Homo sapiens: one gene and its partner. The protein of the gene in region 2 purifies or fractionates together with the protein of the main gene of each other region. This does not show direct contact. Each region holds a gene or a part of one and is shown on either strand. Other genes may lie near its edges.

What was found.
Region 1: the proteins of PENK (region 2) and ANAPC4 purify together in Homo sapiens (affinity purification with mass spectrometry; 3 studies listed by BioGRID and IntAct, with this or other methods). This does not show direct contact.

Annotation. Positions count from the first base shown.
Region 1 is NC_000004.12:25,386,147-25,394,651, reverse strand, and holds part of ANAPC4 (anaphase-promoting complex subunit 4), read right to left. Parts: intron 6,153-8,505; coding exon 6,078-6,152; intron 5,936-6,077; coding exon 5,909-5,935; intron 5,815-5,908; coding exon 5,770-5,814; intron 4,517-5,769; coding exon 4,432-4,516; intron 3,742-4,431; coding exon 3,637-3,741; intron 2,315-3,636; coding exon 2,231-2,314; intron 848-2,230; coding exon 761-847; intron 343-760; coding exon 278-342; intron 1-277. UniProt on the Homo sapiens protein: Component of the anaphase promoting complex/cyclosome (APC/C), a cell cycle-regulated E3 ubiquitin ligase that controls progression through mitosis and the G1 phase of the cell cycle.
Region 2 is NC_000008.11:56,438,952-56,443,641, reverse strand, and holds the end of PENK (proenkephalin-A preproprotein), read left to right. Parts: intron 1-1,704; coding exon 1,705-2,370; 3' UTR 2,371-2,685; downstream 2,686-4,690.

The DNA of each region.
Region 1 (8,505 bases), on a different chromosome or scaffold from region 2:
ATTTTTAGTCACTTCTCTATTGGAAATCTGAATGCATCACTTACAACTTTTAAATTTCGAAGCACAAACAAGAAACAAAATAAAGAAATAGCCCCACAAAAAATTCTACGCATGTAACATCACATATACCCCGTAAGTATGTAACACATTATGTATCAATTAAAATATTATGTATCAATTAAAAAAATCACATACTATGACTATAAACTACTTTTCAAATAAATAATTACTGTTAAAAAAGAAGCAAAAACAGGAGCACCTAATCTGAGTTTATTACCTTGCTTTCCCCCATAATAGCAAGTGCATGAACTCATCTTGCACTGATGTGGTTGTGTTCTTTTCCTGGAAAAAAGTGAAAAAAAAATTGTGATATATGTATTTCTTAAATTATAAGCATATTTATTCAAAATTATAGGAGCATGACTCCCTTTCCTTGCCTTAGACTTCCATCAAATCCATAAAGTGATCATCTGAACATCAGTGACTAGAAGATAGCCAATCAGCTGTTCTAACACCTGCCCTTATTGCCAAAGCCCCACCAGCTCCACTTCACAATCCTGTCCCCACTTAAGTTGTATCAATGGGAAAAGAGCCCTTTTGGCAAATCTGAGGAAGCAGTTTGAAGTCAGACGAAGCCATTTGAAAGAAATTATGATCTTAGCCTTTTATGAATCAAACTGATTTTTCTCATGTACCTCAAGGTAAAGACATACATCATGCATTCTTTAACTCTCTCCATGGGAAACTTCAGCTGCTTTACCTGCACAAACTTGGTGAGACGAGAATCCATCTGCATTAGTATTTCTTCCCATGCTTCACACATACATGTTAGTGACAAATTTATATACTATTAGCAAAAAAGAAAAATTGAAATGGTAAAAAATATTTAAACCAACTTGCTATCTAAATAATATGTGCTTATGATCAAGTGTCTCAAAGAAATCTAGAATTTACTTTCAATCACTGTTTTATTTTTATTATTTATTTATCGAGACAGAGTCTTGCTCTGTCGTCCAGGCTGGAGTGCAGTGACGCCATCTTGGCTCACTGCAACCTCTGCCTCCCAGGTTCAAGCGATTCTCCTGCCTCAGCCTCCCAAGTAGCTGGTATTATATGCGTGCGTCACCATGCCCAGCTAATTTTTGTATTTTTAGTAGAGACGGGGCTTTACCATGTTGGCCAGGCTGGTCTCGAACTCCAAGCCTCAAGTGATCCACCTGCCTCAGCCTCCCAAAGTGCTGGGATTATAGGTGTGCGCCACTGTGCCCAGCCTCAATCACTCTTTTAACTCAGTTAAGATGGAGAAAAAGACAACAGCTTGGTCATCACTTAACTACGAAACATTCCATTGATTCTTAGAATTTCATAATAAAACATTCTTAAATTTTTATCTGGTGAAACAAATATCTCCAAGCTTTTTATATAAGATATGTCTTATCTACACTAACTGTCAAAATACTGGTTTGGTCAATTATTCAATTTTAAAAAGATACTGATCTCTAGAAACCTTTAATATCAAATAAATTAATGACTGTGGTAGAATGAAAAACATGGCCACAATCTTTTGTAGCCCCTCCAGTCAGATGCAGAGTCCATTTCTTCAGCCCTTGAGTCTCGCTTTGACTAACGGAATGCAGCAGAAATAACACTGTTGACTCCAGGGCCTCAAAAGTCTTTGTACACTTCCACTTGCACCCTCGATGCCCCGTTACCACCACCATGTGGACAAGCCTGTGCTGGCTCGCTGGAGTATGAAGGATGTGGAGTAGAGACAAGGAATCACAGCCAAGGGACACATACCAGCTGGCATGACCAAGTCTAGTCAAGATCAGCTGAACCTTCTCCAGGTCACCCAAACATCTTGGCTAAGCTGAGCCTAAATCACCAACCTACAGAATTGGGAGGTAATTTGGGGTGGGTTTATTATGAACAAATGTAAACTCATGTGAAGACTGTTTTTCCCACAATACTTTATAATGTAAATGGTATTTTATTTATGGGAGTATTTTAAAAGATTTAAACTCTTTTGGAGGTGGAAAATAGGGTGCGGTGAAAGTAGGTTCTCAATTAAATGTCCTTTTCCTGCTTTAATGGACCTTATAAGATCATCTATCAGACTAGATACCTCTACTTCAGAAAGCTTTACAAAACAAAATTTTGAAGCTTTTTATTTACAGAACTTTAGAAGCCGATAATAAATATTCACATAAAACAAGCTCTAAATAAATACCTGTAACAGAGCTGAAATATGAGTAAACTTTCTGGCCATCCGAGTTACTTCAGGTAAGAAAGAGTACAACAGATTAGTTTCAAGCTGTAAAATCAAAAGAGTAAAGTGAGTCATCATCAGATGCACTTGCTGCAAAGTCTGTAATTTAGAGTGTGGGTCAAACTACGTATCAGAAAGACTATGTCAGAATTGTGCCCTCTTTGAGCAGAACGGTTTGGAAACAGCACATAGCCTTAGGATCTCCTAACCTACACATAACCATACACAAATCACTCTCTCTGGGTTATCAACCCCTCCTGTGTAGATAGAATAAATGTAATATAACCTATTTTGAAACAGTATTACAAAGAAATGTTTAAATCACAAATATATGTAAAAACTTAAAGGAAGTATAAGGAATTAAAGGCTACTGATAAATATTGGGAAAATATCTATCAATGGTATATGAATTGTATCTTAATAAATTTGTCATTAAAAATGATCTGTTACCAACTTCACAGTAGTAGTGAATCATTTTATTATAATCCAAATGCAATCCTGGTGATCATAGTTTCACATAACCTTAAGAAGATGAGCAAATATGAACAACCATTACCATAGTGAACAGTAAACCAAGAGTTCTCTGATGCTCTGAATACAAAGAGAATGTTGGAAGACATCACACACATTGCATCTTGCATCTTTTTTGTTCTACTTTTGTTTGAGAGTTCACACATACTTAAGTGGCTGGGATATTTAAGATGAAAATTTTCGATTTCTTGGCAAGGCTATGATCTAAATACTCTATGGGAGCCCAGTTAGCTTCCTTAATCTACAATGCAGACAGCACGCAATAAAGCATTTTCCCAATATTAAGTGATCATTTTACACAAGATGCAATGTGCTAGTTAAGAGCACAGATTATGCAGCCAGATTGTCTAGCATCACTTTCCCATCCTGTGACATCAAGCAAGTTCTGAAGTATTTGTGTGTCCATGTACTTACCTATAAAATGGGGATAATAACAGTATCTGCCTATTATGATGCTGTGAAGATTCAAATCAACTGTTCTGAAGCATTCAGCATATGGCACATATTAAACAATCAATAAATATTAACCTTTGTTATTATCAGGGACAGAGTCCTAAGCAAACACTTGGTACAAAGTCAAACTGGAATAGCAACAAATTAATATGGTCATTAATAGACCACCAAAACACTTTTTATGAAAACTGTATTGGAGCATGGGAAGAATAATATGGTATTCACTATAATAACACTCAGTATATTAGGATGTAGAAATTCCAAGTCGATTTTTTTGCATTATTTTAATGATCATTACAATACAGTGAGATGTGGATAAAAACCTATATAAAACCTGTTAAATACATATTTACTCTCTACCGTTATCAAGTTCCAATACTCACCTGAAAGTATGAAACTTCTGAAGCACCATTGGTAGAGACTTCTGTGACCACTGATAATGATTTCAAATCACTTGATAAACATAATGCAAGACAAGTACCAGCAATCTGTAAAAGAGTCAAACCCCTTAGTATATTTAGTATCACTGCTAGGTTGAAGCTGATTATCATGCAGAAAGCAAAAACTCAGAGCTTTAAAAAGCAGAAACAAATTCCCAGCTCCAGCCACACACATGTAGCAGATGAAGGTAGGTGTCTGCCTGCATGGACCTTTCTAGTTACAAGGCCACAAAAATAACCTGGTTCCCTCACCCCTACCCAAGTCTCAAATCAAGTGCTGCAGAACCAACATATTCCACAGAGCCTACAATATTTTCTACCCCTTTTGCGAGTGTAAGAGTCTGATGAAAAAGCTATGGAGAAGACTGAGACGTAGCAACTATAGTACAGTCAGTACTGGACTTAAGAATGCTTCTGAAGATTTACATTCCAATCACAAATTGAAGCTCTTTTACATCTCACACTAGAAAAACATCAAATCATAATCAAGTGTATCATACTAATCTTTCTGTTAAAGAAAAAGAAAAAAAAACTTGACTAATTCCACAAATAGCTCCCAATCTTTATAGACATATCACAATTATTTTATCTTAGTAAGGAAATTAGTCTCTGAACATTTAAGAATAATTCCAAAAATCGAAACTGAAAAAAAACCTAGTGTTTTATTCTTTTTCCATAAGTACCTAGTATATTCTAAGAGAAATAATTTAGGAAGAGAAAATGTTAAAGAAATCTTACCCCTGTGACTCGAGCAATTTTAAACATTCCATAAGCATAAAGCTCAATAAATCCAGAGCTTCCTCCAAGGACGAGAATATTAAGCCTAATTAAAAACAATGCAACAAGCTGAGAACCAATCAACAACACAGATGATTGCATTGTTAAAGCGAGATATAAATTATTACTGCTTTCATATAATCTACATGCTAAAGCTCCCCTGCAGAGGGAAGTGAGACATCAAATCCACTAACACTCAATATTCAGTCACATCAGGCTCATTCCTTTTTTCAAAGAACACAAATTTCCTCTAGCCTAAAAAAAAATCAGCTTACAGTAAAATAAGAATACATTATTTTAATAACAACTATATTTATACACTCTCAATAACAAAACAATCCTTTTACCAACTAATACAAAGTGCCATCAGTTTTATCATGGTTATGATGCTAAATATATTAAATGGGCTTAAAAAACATGAATACTTAAAATTTTAGAAACTCTAGTACTTATATCCTTTAACTTATTAAAATAAACATATGTACATCATATTATTATTAAAACTTCATAAAACGAAAGGCCACACAATAAAAACAATAATAGATATTAAGGTCTATATATTGTTTGAAGGTATTAATGTCAACGATAAGGCCAGGTGCGGTGGCTCATGCCTGTAATCCCAACACTTTGGGAGGCCAAGGCGGGTGGATCATCTGAGGTTGGGAGTCTGAGACCAGCCTGGCCAACATGGTGAAACCCCGTCTCTACTAAAAATACAAAAATTAGGCCAGGCGCGGTGGCTCACGCCTGTAATCCCAGCGCTTTTGGAGGCTAAGGCGGGTGGATCACGAGGTCAAGAGATCGAGACCATCCTGGCCAACATGGTGAAACCCCGTCCCTACTAAAAATAAAAAAATTAGACAGGCCTGGTGGCGGGTGCCTGTAGTCCCAGCTACTCGGGAGGCTGAGGCAGAAGAATCACTTGAACCAGGAAGGCGGAGGTTGCAGTGAGCCGAGATAACGCCACTGTACTCCAGCCTGGCAACAGAGCGAGACTCCGTCTCAAAAAAAAAAAAAAAAAATTAGCTGGGTGTGGTGGCGCGTGCCTGTAGTCCCAGCTACTCGGAGGAGGCTGAGACAGGAGAATCGCTTGTGCCCAGGAAGTAGAGGTTGTAGTGAGCCAATATCACGACACTGCACTCCAGCCTGGGTGACAGAGACTCCATCTCAAAAAGAAAACAAAAACAAAAAACAATGAAATAAAATGGCAAATAAAGGATTTGCTCTTAAAGCTTCTGAAAACTGCCTCAAATATGAAATAACTTTAAGAAATTAGACTTATTTATCTGTAAGATTTACCTGACGTCTCCCAAGAGCTTAATAATTTCATCAGAATTTTCTTCACTAAAATATAGAAGTAAATTGGGTCATCTTTCAATTCTGTCTTCCAAATAATAGCAGATTATCTTACTTGAAAACAAGAAAAGGCGTATCTTACCTAAATATTTTTGAGGTGTTGCTATAGCTAGAAGGAAACAGAGATTAAGGTAAAAAATACTCTTAGTAAAAATACATATTTTAAAACGCATGAGAAAATTGTCACAGTGTTAAAAGCAGAAGAAAGAGAAATCTGCAAGATTAATTTCAAAGAAACCAGTGATACATACTTTTTTGGCAGTGTAGGTAGTTTAGGTAAGAGAAGATTTGATTCATCCTCAGCATTATAAAATGATGTGAGAACACTAAAAAGGAAAAAATAAAAGCATTATAAAAACACCAAAGATTTTACTTCTCTTGCCATTAAAAATGCTAATTTTTAAAAAAGATACCCAGTTTTACAACATTATCAAGTAAATAGATGACACAAATACTATACAGTTGTAGTCAGTTTAACAGTCCCAAATAGGAAATTGAAAAGTAGGAATTTCTGTTATTTTAGGGGAAAAAAAACATCAGCCTGCACACGTTACATTTAGAGAAATGATATTAATAAACACTTTTCTTAGCATATGAAATGCATTCATATGTACTCAGATACTGAGAATTTATGATTTCTTAACTCTCATTTAAGAACTCACACCAAACATATGACTACTAAGAGTAGCACTATCTTTTATTTATGAGACAGGGTCTCACCCAGGCCGGAGTGCAGTGGTGTGATCATGGTTCACTGCAGCCTTCACCTTCTGAGCTAAAGCCATCATCCTGCCCCAGCCTCCTGAGTAGCTGGGACTACAGGTGCAAGCCACCACACCCAGCTAATATATACATTTTTTTTTTTAGAGATGGGGGTCTCACTATGTTGCCCAGACTGGTCTGAAACTCCTTCCTCCTGCCTCAGCCTCCCAAAGTGCTAGGATTATAGGCATGAACCACTATGCATGGCCTACTATGTGATTTAGTTATTGGTTCTATGACTTATACACACTTGTGGATTTGATAATCCAACAGGTATTTGAGACTACACCATGCCTTTTGAAATAGTCTTATTTACCCCCTTTTCCTTCTCAATTCTAACTCCAAATAAGGTTGGAAATAAATGAGTAAGCAAGTAAAAAAGTGGTGATTTAGCAAGTATTTTTTCCTACTTTAATAAAAAGGAGCTGTCTTGAGAGACCCTGGAATCGCCACATAACACTTCTAAACTGTTAGTAGAAAGTATGTTGGGAATACACACAGCAGATAACCGGGCTGGAATAGGAATTACATGATATGCTCTGACCCTCTAACATTCTACATATTCACATAACGATTTGTAATCCTTCATTATCTGATGATGGATTTATCACTCTGGTTTATCTACAGTGAATTTCAAACCCCAGGTCAAACCCTTGTCATCCAATTCTTTCAGGCTTCCCTTAGGAAAGCTGGCAATTAATATTCAGGATTTACAAATTCATTTGATATTACCTTAGTATAACTTAATTAGAAAGGAAAAGTTAATGGTAAGAAAATTAGCATATTTCCCCAAAAAAGAAAAACAATTTTTGTTTTCAGTATTAGCCAAACCCACTGATTCCTCCGGCCTTCTTCACTACAACCCTGGTGTATTACTTGACTACACACACTAATGCAGAATTATTTTTATGAAACAAGGAAATTATCAGGACCATGGACAAAGAAAAAACCTGTCCAGCATTAGACAGAATGCTCAACTTAGCATTTTTCATACTCTAAGAATACTTACTGAGACACAAAAAAAAGTTCCAGATGATATAAATCATGAAATGGAAATTAATATATGTATTAATTAATAAAACTTTAAAATTACTGATTGGCAAATTGAGGTTGTTTTCCATTTCACCATTTATCTCGTCTAGAGCTTTGTTTTTTGTGCCTCAGTAACTATTTTTGGAGTATGAAATGACTAGAAAGAGGAGAAAACTCTTAGCTATTCAGGTTTACTGCTTCAACAAGAAAATACAGGCATATCTCCTTCAATTGTGCTTCCCTTCATCCTGCTTCCCAGATACTGCATTTTTCACAAATCAAGTTTGTGGCAACCCTGTGTCAAGCAAGTCTATCAGCCAAGCAAGTCTATTGGAGTCCTTTTTCCAGCAGCCATGTGCTCACGTTGTACTTCTGTGTCACATTTTGAAATATTTGCAATACTGCAATTTTTTTCATTATTATATTATTTGTTATGGTGATTTGAGGTCAGTAATCTTTGATGTTACTATTATAATTGTTTAGGGGTGCCACAAACCATGGCCATATAAAATGGTGAGCTTCGGCTGGGTATGGTGGCTCACGTCTATAATCCCAGAGCTTTGGGAGGCCGAGGAGGGCAAATCACTTGAGAGGAGTTCGAGACCAGCCTGGCCAACATGGTGAAATCCCGTCTCCACTAAAAATATAAAAATTAGCTGGGCATGGTGGCACACACCTGTAATTCCAGTTTCTCGGGAGGCTGAGGCAGGAGAATCACTTGAACCCTGCAGGCAGAGGCTACAGTGAGCTGAAATTGTACCACTGCACTCTGGCCTGGGTGACAGAATGATAACTGTGTCTCAAAAAATAAATAAATAAGGCCAGGCGCTGAGGCTTATGCCTGTAATCCCAGCACTTTGGGAGGCCGAAGCGGGCGGGTTACCT
Region 2 (4,690 bases):
ATATTTACTGAGCTTCTACCATGAGAAAGACACTTATGATTGGTACTGTGGTGGATGCAGAGATGAGCAGGCGTGCTATGGCTGATGTCCAGATAGAATTTCCCATCTAATGTGATCTTGACCATACCACACAAAGTGTGGTAAATACCACAAAACATGCATACATGGTTATAGGAGCCATCAGTTAACATCGCTACCTTAGTACGAGTGCATTATTCTGATATTTGTTACTATTTGGTTTTGAAGGAATCTCACATCACATACATTTAAAAATCTTTTGGTATTAGTATGCAAAACATTCAACATTAATTTTTAACAACAAGATCACTTAGATACAACTTTAGAATGGAAATATTATTGCTCCTTAAATATCTTAAGCTTCTAATGGTGTTTTTATTTGTTCATCATATGTCAGGAATAAAATAAGACATTTTAATTATTAATGGATCATCTTTAGATTCTTACGTAGTTATATATTTAATCTTCTCAGACACGAAGCTTAAATACTCATTAAGAGCTTACTAAATACGTGCCTTCAAGATTTTGTTGCACTAATAAAATGCTTTCTTTCATTGTGAAAATAATATATGTGTATTTAACATCACTTAATATACCAGTATATTTTTAATAATACCAAGAAAGACTTCAGAGGGCTGTAAAAAACTCCTGAAATGCTAAGAAATATCATGCATGTTTTGTAAATGTTCACATATTAGTACTCTCTTTATCATACCCAAGTGATGTGTTAAATAGAAAAAAACTTAAGATCATTCGAATGTATAGACTTACAATGATTTTATATTTAATATTTATATAAGAAAAAGGAAAGAATGTATGCTGATGATTCCTATTTTACCAAACACCATGATTTCCATTGAAAAATACTTTTTCTGTACAACAGTGACTAAATGTGAAGAAAATAAACATGAATAATTTGTGCACTTGCATTTGTATAATTTTATATCTGATCTCATCATTATAGACATTTTGTTCAAAATAATAAAGTCTGTTGTATCCAGCAAAGAAAAAAGGAAAAAAACAAAAGATCTGTACTTACAACAAATTAACAAATTAATAAGAATGCAAATAATTCATCAGATTTAAATTGAGTTTTTAGGATGTGTTTATAAACTTTTTTTAAATTGTTGTTTTTCTTTGAAGATTGAAAGTATTTGCAGGAATACTCGATACCATTTTAGGTAAAATATTAACACAAGAAAGCAAATGACCCTTAGGTTATTAATATTGATTTTATCTCTAAGACAAGAAGATAAAAGGAATTTTGAGGAAATATCCCTGATTAGGTAAATAAAAATTTCTCCTTTTTGGTTAGAAAAATCTCAAACAAAATTATATCAGAAGTGGAAAATTATCCAGTGAAATTAGATTGTGAAAGCAGTCAATCTAAGTTAAAACTGCATGGAAAATTTTTTTTTAAATTCTTTAAAATTTCTATGGGTTTAAAATCCAAAGGCAGATTCCTAACTGGATTCAGTGAACCCCTCCACTTTCACCTTTCCAAATTTTATTTGTTTCATTTGCATGCTCAGCCTTATGAAAAGTCGTGATAAGAAATTGGAGATGACCTTATTATAATAAGGAAGTTATGATGTCAAAGCAAGCATATTTTGGTCCACAAAAGTTCATTTGCTTAATGAAATCACAGAAGCTTCTTTTTATCATTACATCAAATTGTTTTCCCAGGCTTGCGTAATGGAATGTGAAGGTAAACTGCCTTCTCTGAAAATTTGGGAAACCTGCAAGGAGCTCCTGCAGCTGTCCAAACCAGAGCTTCCTCAAGATGGCACCAGCACCCTCAGAGAAAATAGCAAACCGGAAGAAAGCCATTTGCTAGCCAAAAGGTATGGGGGCTTCATGAAAAGGTATGGAGGCTTCATGAAGAAAATGGATGAGCTTTATCCCATGGAGCCAGAAGAAGAGGCCAATGGAAGTGAGATCCTCGCCAAGCGGTATGGGGGCTTCATGAAGAAGGATGCAGAGGAGGACGACTCGCTGGCCAATTCCTCAGACCTGCTAAAAGAGCTTCTGGAAACAGGGGACAACCGAGAGCGTAGCCACCACCAGGATGGCAGTGATAATGAGGAAGAAGTGAGCAAGAGATATGGGGGCTTCATGAGAGGCTTAAAGAGAAGCCCCCAACTGGAAGATGAAGCCAAAGAGCTGCAGAAGCGATATGGGGGCTTCATGAGAAGAGTAGGTCGCCCAGAGTGGTGGATGGACTACCAGAAACGGTATGGAGGTTTCCTGAAGCGCTTTGCCGAGGCTCTGCCCTCCGACGAAGAAGGCGAAAGTTACTCCAAAGAAGTTCCTGAAATGGAAAAAAGATACGGAGGATTTATGAGATTTTAATATCTTTTCCCACTAGTGGCCCCAGGCCCCAGCAAGCCTCCCTCCATCCTCCAGTGGGAAACTGTTGATGGTGTTTTATTGTCATGTGTTGCTTGCCTTGTATAGTTGACTTCATTGTCTGGATAACTATACAACCTGAAAACTGTCATTTCAGGTTCTGTGCTCTTTTTGGAGTCTTTAAGCTCAGTATTAGTCTATTGCAGCTATCTCGTTTTCATGCTAAAATAGTTTTTGTTATCTTGTCTCTTATTTTTGACAAACATCAATAAATGCTTACTTGTATATAGAGATAATAAACCTATTACCCCAAGTGCATAATATCCTTGTAAGTCTCTTTTTCTCCAAGGCTCTCATTTACCTTTGGGTTTCCGCATCAATCCTAGACTCAGGGACAGTAGAACCATCTGCTTTTGACATAATTTTGACATCATAATCATTGTCTTTCTTCTCCTTCAGCCAAGGCTCAAAAACATTTTTTATTTAATTCCTCACAGCATGAAATCTTAGATTAGTAAACACGTGGGAGCAAAATAAAATGTATTTTCACTCTCATTTCTGGAAATCAGATACATGAAGAAAAACCAAAGCCTAATAAAGGAGCCAGCTATGCCCCCATTAAACACACACACACACACACACACACACATACTTGCATTTACATCAGATGTGTATGTCTCTTTTCTTCAGTAAAGTATTTTAGAAGTTAGTAAGAAATTAAAGATAATTTAGTCCAATTTTACAAATGAAGAAAGGGAAGCCAAGAAAGGTTGTGTAGTTGGCCCAAAGTTGCCCAGCAGTTGAAGGACAAAAATAGGATTAAAACCCCAAACTTTTTGTGCCCAGTCAATATCCTTTTCACTGCGGTTCCTTATCTCCTATCCACGTCACTAGTAAGAATTGTAAGAACGTGGAACTACATCTTAGTCACCATTGTACACCTCTACACTATGACTGTAGCAGATTCTCCAATATCGGATGAATGGATATATGAATGATGAATAAATTAATTTGGTGACCAGATAATGAGGAAAGATATTGTGAGTGTTTTGTAAGGTAAATCCCCAAAACACAAGGTGCTTATGACTACTTCATATTAATGAGACAATGCTCAGATATAAGAAATGTAACTTTTCATTTTTCTTATTATTATTATTATACTTTAAGTTTTAGGGTACATGTGCACAGCATGCAGGTTTGTTACGTATGTAAACATGTGCCATTAACTCGTCATTCTGGTTTCTCTTCAGATCGTGCAAATCTTTCGCCTTTAACTTTTCATTTTTCTAACTGAAACAACATACGGCTTAACCCCTACTCACTAAATCATTTTTCCAGGACCCCCACCAACCCTTTCTCTTGTGTTTCTCAAAACATTGGAATTTAGCAACTCTGGAAAGTGGGGGACGAGTCTCTGGTCTGCAGTCTACCAAGGCTGCTGCCGAGATGCTCACTGTGCAAGCCTGTGTGCCCCATCTGATAAGGCAGCTGCACTGTGCTCGGCAGTTTGTTCTCTCTGTACAGCCCCGCCAGGGCTCACAGGACATCCACATGATCATGCTGTTAGGAGACCCATCTCCTGGAATTAGTGCAAGGAATCACAGGGCCCCACACTCACAGAGCCCCAACTCCATCAATCTTCCTGATCCTTGGTAAACTAATTTTTTCTTCCAGGCAAAGCCCGGGAGGAAAAAAGATAATACAATAATTATTGATAAGATAATGCCATTATTATCTCACAATAGTCCAATATGTATACTTACATATCTCATACAATGTGTTTGAGAAAATAACAAAGTTCACCATCAGACAAATACATTTTTCAAAGCAAGCGCAGTTTCATGCGCGTCGGTGTGAAGAGACCACCAAACAGGCTTTGTGTGAGCAATAAAGCTTTTAATCATCTGGGTGCAGGCGGGCTGAGTCCGAAAAGAGAGTCAGCAAAGGGAGATAAGGGTGAGGCCATTTTATAAGATTTGGGTAGGTAAAGGAAAATTACAGTCAAAGGGGGGTTGTTCTCTGGCGGGCAGGTGTGGGGGTCACAAGGTGCTCAGTAGGGGAGCTTTTGAGCCAGGACGAGCCAGGAGAAGGAATTTCACAAGATAATGTCATCACTTAAGGCAAGAACAGGCCATTTTCACTTCTTTTGTGGTAGAATGTCATCAGTTAAAGCAGGAACTGGCCATCTGGATGTGTACGTGCAGGTCACAGGGGATATGATGGCTTAGCTTGGGCTCAGAGGCCTGACACACAGTTCTTTTTTTTTTTTTTTAGAGATGAGGGCTCACTTGGTTGCCCAGGCTGGAGTGCAGTCGCTAGCTCA